Linked DNA regions of Homo sapiens. The protein of the gene in region 2 purifies or fractionates together with the protein of the main gene of each other region. This does not show direct contact. Each region holds a gene or a part of one and is shown on either strand. Other genes may lie near its edges.

What was found.
Region 1: the proteins of HDAC8 (region 2) and ADD3 purify together in Homo sapiens (affinity purification with mass spectrometry; one large-scale study listed by BioGRID and IntAct). This does not show direct contact.

The regions. Positions count from the first base shown.
Region 1 is NC_000010.11:110,122,968-110,126,793, reverse strand, and holds part of ADD3 (gamma-adducin), read right to left. Parts: intron 2,778-3,826; coding exon 2,520-2,777; intron 969-2,519; coding exon 849-968; intron 378-848; coding exon 291-377; intron 1-290. UniProt on the Homo sapiens protein: Membrane-cytoskeleton-associated protein that promotes the assembly of the spectrin-actin network. Plays a role in actin filament capping. Binds to calmodulin.
Region 2 is NC_000023.11:72,485,653-72,489,478, forward strand, and holds part of HDAC8 (histone deacetylase 8), read right to left. Parts: intron 3,390-3,826; coding exon 3,281-3,389; intron 1-3,280. UniProt on the Homo sapiens protein: Histone deacetylase that catalyzes the deacetylation of lysine residues on the N-terminal part of the core histones (H2A, H2B, H3 and H4).

The DNA.
Region 1 (3,826 bases), on a different chromosome or scaffold from region 2:
GCTGGAGGATCACCTGAGATCAGGTGTTCACGACTATCCTGGGCAACAGAGTGAGACCTCATCTCAACTAACTAACCAGAAACACCAAAGTAAACATTAGAAGCAATGAAAAGAACAGAAAGTTGCTGCACCTGGAAACTGGGAATTGTGGGTGACATTTTAAATCTTGTGAGTTGACTTTTTAACTTGTGCTTATATTAACCTTAGTAAAAATAAATATTCATATTTAAAAATCAATGAAATTAATGTGGTAAATAAAAAACAAAGATCATACTACTTCATAAACTTACAGAAGGTGGCTTATCCACAACAATTCCAGCAAGCAACTGAGATTGTGGTCCTGCTGTTTTCAAGTCATATCGATTTTGTTCCCGAATCTGAATTGAAAAACAATTCAATATAAAGTTCTTGAGGGCAACTATGCAGATGACCTTTGCTTTATCTTTTCATAAAAGCTTACTACTTGACATTTCCAGAGTGAGAGTCTCTTCAATTCCCACCTCCATAAAGACCTCTTTTACCATCCTAACAACTCATATTAGTCTCCTCTGCTCTTTATGGCAAGTTATTTCCTTTCGTCTTAGGTTGTTAGAGAACTGCATTTTCCCCCTAATAGCAGGGTTCTCTAACGCAGAAAAATGTTCAATACATCTTCCCCATGTAGCCTGTTCACCAATTACTAGCACAGAGCTGGAGGCATTCAATATAAGCTAAAATTATACTGAATTAAATTCCAAATTCTTCTGTATTCAAACTTCTAAGTTTGGCATTAACCAGATTCAACCACTGGTGATTTAAACATAAAGCAATTAAAATGTCTCCCCTGGCTATAGAAGACCATGTCTTACCTTATTTCTCTTTTCTAGTACCTCATTCGGGTTTGTGTTTAAAGGAACAAACTGATTTGGATCTTCAATTTTGATAGGTGTTCCACCACTAACTTTAGATGAGTCTTCTGCTTTCATCCACTAAAGAATCAAAAATTTTCTAAAATGAAGCTTTGTGTTAAGAAAATATTAGTAGATTGTTAGATAACTGCTTATAGTCTCAAGAGGGGCATTGCCAATGTTTAAATAATTTCACTAAGCAGTATCTTAGTGGTGAATTAGTTTCATCTCATACTAGTTAGAAAAGGCTCAAAATCAACATTTACTTAAAAAATAAATGCCATTACGATTCACATAAATATTCAATTATACTGCTAATTAAACTTTCTCCTTGTGTCAAGTGAAAATATGATGCTGAAACTACTTCAAGCACAGAGAGCATGATCTCACATTCACTCACATTCAGTGTTTTGTCTTCTGCACTGAAGACAGCAGTCAGATGAAGATGGCAAAGGAGTAATCAAAAAAAAAAAAAACTTAAGAAATATCTTAAGATTTTAGTTTATCAGACTTCACTTTTTATTTTTGGCTGACAGAAAAGGCCAAGCCCTAATCGGCATTTTATAATGGGGATAATCTGGTATATAATAGCAAAATAGAACCACGGGGTTGGAAGGAGCTTACATAATTCTTCTCATTTACCCCATATTATAATCCTTAAAGAAAGCGAATCTCGATCAAGATTAATGATGGCTGACCATCAATCTCTGTAAACAAAATGAATTCTGAGAAACCAATGAGTTTAATTATGTTCTTTTACTGGGAGGCAAGAAATCTTATAGACTACAGAAAAGACATTTTGATGCCTAGGTATTTTCATATTGAATGCCATTAGTTTATATAAGATGAACTAATTCTGAATATCTAGAACTGTGGTGTCCAATCTTTTGACTTCCCTGGGCCACATTGGAAGAACTGTCTTGGGCCACATATAAAATACACCAACACTAACGATAGCTGATTAGTTTAACAAAATCACAAAAAATTCTCATAATGTTTTAATAAAGTTTACAAATTTGTGTTGAGCTGCATCCAAAGCCATCCTGGGCCATGGACTGGACAAGACTGACCTAGAGAATGTTTGGTGGTATGCACTCCAAAACCAAACCAAACCAAATCTAATGCAAAATTCTGAAAAAGATAAAATAACCCATTTCTCTACCTACAAGATCTTGCCTAAGGGTAGCTATGTGCAGTGATTCATGCAGCTTTGGTACAATTAGGAGTTGATAACTTTTACAGTTTTAATTCACTGGTGAATTAAACTACTGGTGTAGTTTAATAGAAACTACAAAGCAGTATCATGTAGTGGACAAGAACTGGGCTCAAGAGTCAGACTGTCTTCATGCAAATCCCGAGTTTACCATTAAAACATGATTAATTAACCCTTCTTGCCTTGGTTTTCTCATCTATAAAATAGAAAAACAGCATCATTCATATTAGGAGAGTTAAATGAGAAAATTCGTGTATGGCACTTAGAAGAGTGTCTTGCACAAAGTTAAAGCCAGATAAGTGACAGTAATATTTTTAATATTATTTTACTTTCCAAATATTTTCAATATAGAACATTCAATTCTTGAGTAACTAGGCAAAATATTTAGTAAAGGCAAACTACATAAAATACTGGCATACCGTGATTTTGGTTCGGGGACTGGTTTCTCCGTTCCGAGACTCCTCAGGCACATTCACTTTCATGTAAGTATTTGGTGAGTTCAGCCATCTTGTTTTTTCACGCTGTTGCCTCTGTGCCATGTATTTGAGAGGAGAGAGTGGCACTGTATCGTCTTCAAAGGAAAAAGCAGTCACAGTTGCTGGGATTTCCACATCACTCTTGTGCCTAGGCTTCTCTCGAATGAGAGGATGCCTGTAAGCATAGCCTGTTCTATACCCCTAAGGGAGGGAAAAGCCACATTTGAAGCATCAAACCTGTATCAATAACAGCATTTGGATCCTAATTCCTTTTGTATACAAATGATTTAAAAGACTCCTTTGCTAAAAAACAAAGAAAAAGGCATCCTTCCAAACACCACATAACTTTCATGTAACACTGGAGCTGAAATTATGCAAATTTCAAGACCTAGTTAGAGCTGATAACAGCTGATATTGCAATTTCCACTCACACAACTGTTCCCGACAAACGAACAGTTCTAAGTTGCTGACCAGAAGTGCTTTTCTATCTATAAAACTGTTCTGGGGAAGCAAATCTCAGTGCTCATTTAAGTCTCTGTTCCTGGGTCTGAAGGCAGTCAGCCTTCTGAGCCTTCACAGAAGAGGGTAAAATCTAAAATAACATTTGCCAAACCATACATCTTTTAAGGGGTTACTATCCAAAATATATAGGGGACTCAAAAAATAACAAGAGAAGAACCCAATTAAAAAATAGGCAAAGGATCTGAATAAACATTTCTCAAAAGAAGACATACAAATGGTCAACAAGTGTATTAAAACATCACTAATCAAGAAAATGCAAATTAAAGCACGAGATGGCATGTCCTGTTAGAATCGCTATTATAAAAAAGATGAAAGACAACAAGTGTTAGAATGTAGGGAGAAAGGGACCCTTTGCACACTGTTGGTAGCAATGTAAATTAGTATAGCCATTGTGGAAAACAGTATGGAGGTTCCTCATACAATTAAAAATAAAACTACCATATCACCCAACAGTCTCACTACCAGATATATATCCAAAGGGAATGTACTCAGTATGTCAAAGAGGTATCTGTACTCTCATGTTAGGTACACCATTATTCACAATAGCCAAGATATGGAATCATCCTAAGTGTCCATTGATGGATGGGATATAAATGTGGTATATACAACATAATGGAATACTATTCAGCTTTAAAAAAGAAATTCTGTCAAATGTGACAACATGGATGAACCTAGAGGACATTGTATTAAATAAAATAAACCAGGCACAGAAAGACAAATACCCCATG
Region 2 (3,826 bases):
GTAAAAGAAAGAAGAAAGAAAGAAGGAAAAGGAAAAAGGAGCAATTTATGAGCAAACTAGAAATTGGGTGGCAAATAAAAATGAGAGCATCTTATAAGTGAACCAGCAATAAGAGGTCCTTTACACATCACAAGTAAGGAGTGAGCCAGAGAACCAGTGGGGTCATGAAATAAAAAGGATGAAAAGGGGCTAGGCGTGGTGGCTCATGCCTGTAATCCCAGCACTTTGGGAGGCCGAGGTGGGTGGATCACGAGGTCAGGAGATCGAGACCATAGTGGCTAACACGGTGAAACCCCGTCTCTACTAAAAATACAAAAAAATTAGTCGGGTGTGGTGGCAGGCGCCTGTAGTCCCAGCTACTGGGGAGGCTGAGGCAGGAGAATGGCGTGAACCCGGAAGGCAGAGCTTGCAGTGAGCCTAGATCGCCGACAGAGTGAGACACCATCTCCAAAAAAATAAAAATAAATAAATAAAATAAAATAAAAGGATGAAAAGAAGATAGTAGATAAACTAAATGACTTTTTACAAAAAGATTAAGCCATTCCTCTGTGTAATATATCTTTTGAGGTAGGCAGAAGGGTCAGAGGTAACAATGGCAAATGTGTAAGAGACTGTTTCCAAGCCACATACCAGAAGTATTCAAAGGCATAATGCCTGGGACTGAGTGATCTAGTTACCAGGGCTGGCCCTCTGCAAAACTCTTGGCAAAGATCGCTGTGGTTTTTGGTACCCCTTTCCCTCTACTGCTCCACTAGGCAATTCCTGCTCCTCAGAATACTCAAGGAGCTCATGCTCTGACCCTTTCACAATTCATTCTCAAGAATGGCACTGTGAAGCTACACCTCATCTCTACTAAAAGTTTCTTTTTTTTAAATTAGCCAGATGTGGTATCGTGTGCCTGTTTGCCCCAGCTACTTGGGAAGCTGAAGCAAGGGGATCACTTGGATCCAGGAGGTCAAGGCTGCAGTGAGCTGTGATCATGCCATTGCACTCCAGCCTGGGCAACAGGGGAAGACCCTGTCCACAACCCCAAAAAAGAAAGGTTCTGTGAAACTATACTTCTATAGTACAGCAGGGGTGAGGATGAGAGGTTGTGCCAAAATTTCGTTTTAAGGACTATTTCTAATTGTAGAATAAAAGTATGTTTCCTGTTAAAGGAATTTCAGGTATTAATCCAACAGATAGGAGAGATGTTTGGGCCAGGAAGCCTCCTTGGTACCCTTGGAATCAGAGGTGCCTTCACATAATGCCCTGACCAGACTTGACTTCTGAAGGAAAGCAAAGAAAAAAAATTATTATACCTCTAATGAAAACCTGGAACCTGTTATTCTGGATGATCACTGTGTGGCTTGCATTGCCAATGTGGGTCCACAGGCAAAGGGGCCCTGGGAACTATAAACTGATGAGTGTCTGGTTCTTCAGTAGGCAAGCTGGAAGAATTTTTAATAAATGCTAGCCTCCTGTACACAAAAGCCATCAATCTATTGGGATGTGGGTGGCATCATGCTTTTTGTAAAGCGAAATCATGTGTAATCTTCTACAGATCTTTTCCTTGGGGCTAAACTTACTTTAAAAATGCTTCTGATTAGGTTTGATACCAAGGCTATTTTTAAACATGAATTACCATGGGATTTAAAATATTTTTTATCATGTAGTAGGAACTGGTCTACAGAAAAAAAAGAGAAAATATAGGGTAGAAACAGATATTTTTTCTGACTGAAGAAGGATAAATAGACTTCCTTGGGGGTGGGCACTGGAAAATCCTCAAGTCTACAGATAATACTCAGCTTTCCCAGGCAGTGAAATGCCAAGTTGATGGGAGATAAAGAAGATCTCAGGAGGTTTTATGATTGGCAGATAACCTTCAATAGGGGCACATGTAAAGTGATCCATTTAGGGCTTTGTAAGGGGTACATGTAAGGTGATCCATTTAGGGTGATCCATCTAGGGAGCACTAGATATTACAAACTATACTTGCTGGATGATGAGTGCTGACCTTTCAATTAAGACCCAGGAAAGGGCTCGAGGAGACACTGTGGACAGTGCACTGAAGAGAACAACCTAGTTTTCTGTTATGGTAAAAAAAAAAAAAAAAGGGTAACAAAATCAGGCACTGTTAAGAAAGGGATTAAAAGAAAAACAAAATAATTCTCCTTTTACATAGAACTGCAGGATATCTTTATTGGTAAAGTTACATAAGCAGCTCTGATCTGCACATCTCAAGGACAGAAGAGAGCTTAAGGGGAACAAAGAAGGGCAATTAAACCATTGATGGCAGGCTCCAAAAAAAAAAAAAAAAAGTTTTTTCAGCATGATAATACAGAGGTAGCCAGGAGACATGATCAAAATTATGAAGAGGCTTATGCTGCTGAATAACTGAATGATGACTTGGCTCACCAAATCTCTTGAGCTAAGAAGCACTTTTGAAGCATAAAGTTTTTATTTTTTAATAGTTCTGCTTTGTTTATACAACTGCCAGTGATGATGGCCAGTGCAGGCAGGCTTCTTTGGGAAGAACCTCCACCAGAGGTTGGGAGAAATACGAGCTAAGTTGGGGAGGGATCAAGAGTACCTCAATCCCCGTTACTTACCTTCAGTAATGTTGACTGGCTGACTTCTATTCGGATTTGCTTTCTCTGCCACCACTTGTGCCTGACCAATCTCAATTTTTATGAATATGAGTTTAACACAACCCCCCACCCCCATTCCATAAGGCTTTTCAACTCTAGTGGTCCACACATTGGCACCAATCTGTCTGTCTACGATTGTCTGTAACTTAATCCTTAGCCATGGTGTAGAAAGAACAGGTATCTGACTCCAATTTTAACACAGTGGATAGAAGGTAAGAATGCATGATGAATAATAATAGTCAATTCTCTAATATTTACACCAGTAGAAGAAAGCACAGGTCTCCATAATGAACCCTGACAACTGAAATGAACCCTGCCAGGTTAATGAAATAAGACACATGTAGGTTTATTTAGCTAAGAAAGTAGCAAATAAGGGATTCTTCAGGATAGCAAAAAAAGCTCTGCTCTTGGGATGGGCTTAATCATATTGAGTAAGATCCAACCTGGAGCATGGCTCTGGTCCAACTGCTTGGCTCTGCCATACAGCGGATAGCTACTGATCAAATAAGCATAATGACCAGTATACAAAAGCTTTATAGGTATATAGATGTTTTCTTTTTTACATTGTTCTTGTTTACATTGTGAGATGGGGGCCATTTCATCCTACAGAACTGCAATCCACTTATTACTGGCTAGTGTTACTGCCATACCTTTCACAGATCTGGTAATATTTTTCATCTTGTATGCCATCCTGAATGGGCACATTTACACTGTAGTACCGTCCCTTCCCTAGGCCAACATCAGACACGTCACCTGTTCCTATAAAAGAGAAGAGCACTATGATCAGTTATTAGGAACATGAGAACCCAGAAAACTTAAAGGATTTCCTGATAGGGAAATTTCTAGGGAAAGAAATTAAGAAAAATTATATAAAGAAGTAAGTATTGTAAACAATCTTGGAGAAGCAGGCAAATCATAAGGAAACTGAAAAACCTCAGTTTTCACCTTACTGGATCAAATGAAAAAATAAGAGATTAACTCCTTTGCTTGGCTTCATGCTTTTTAGGTTGACATAACATCAATTTATCACTGCAATTATTCAGGATGTTAGGAGTTGCATGGGGTGTCTACTAGTATAGTAAGCATAAGTGATCTGTTAACAGTCCATAAAAATCACCTGGAAAAAGAAACAGCTTTAATGTCATTCTTCTTGTTATTGTCACCTGAGGTGACCTGTGTTAAAATTTTGCACAGGA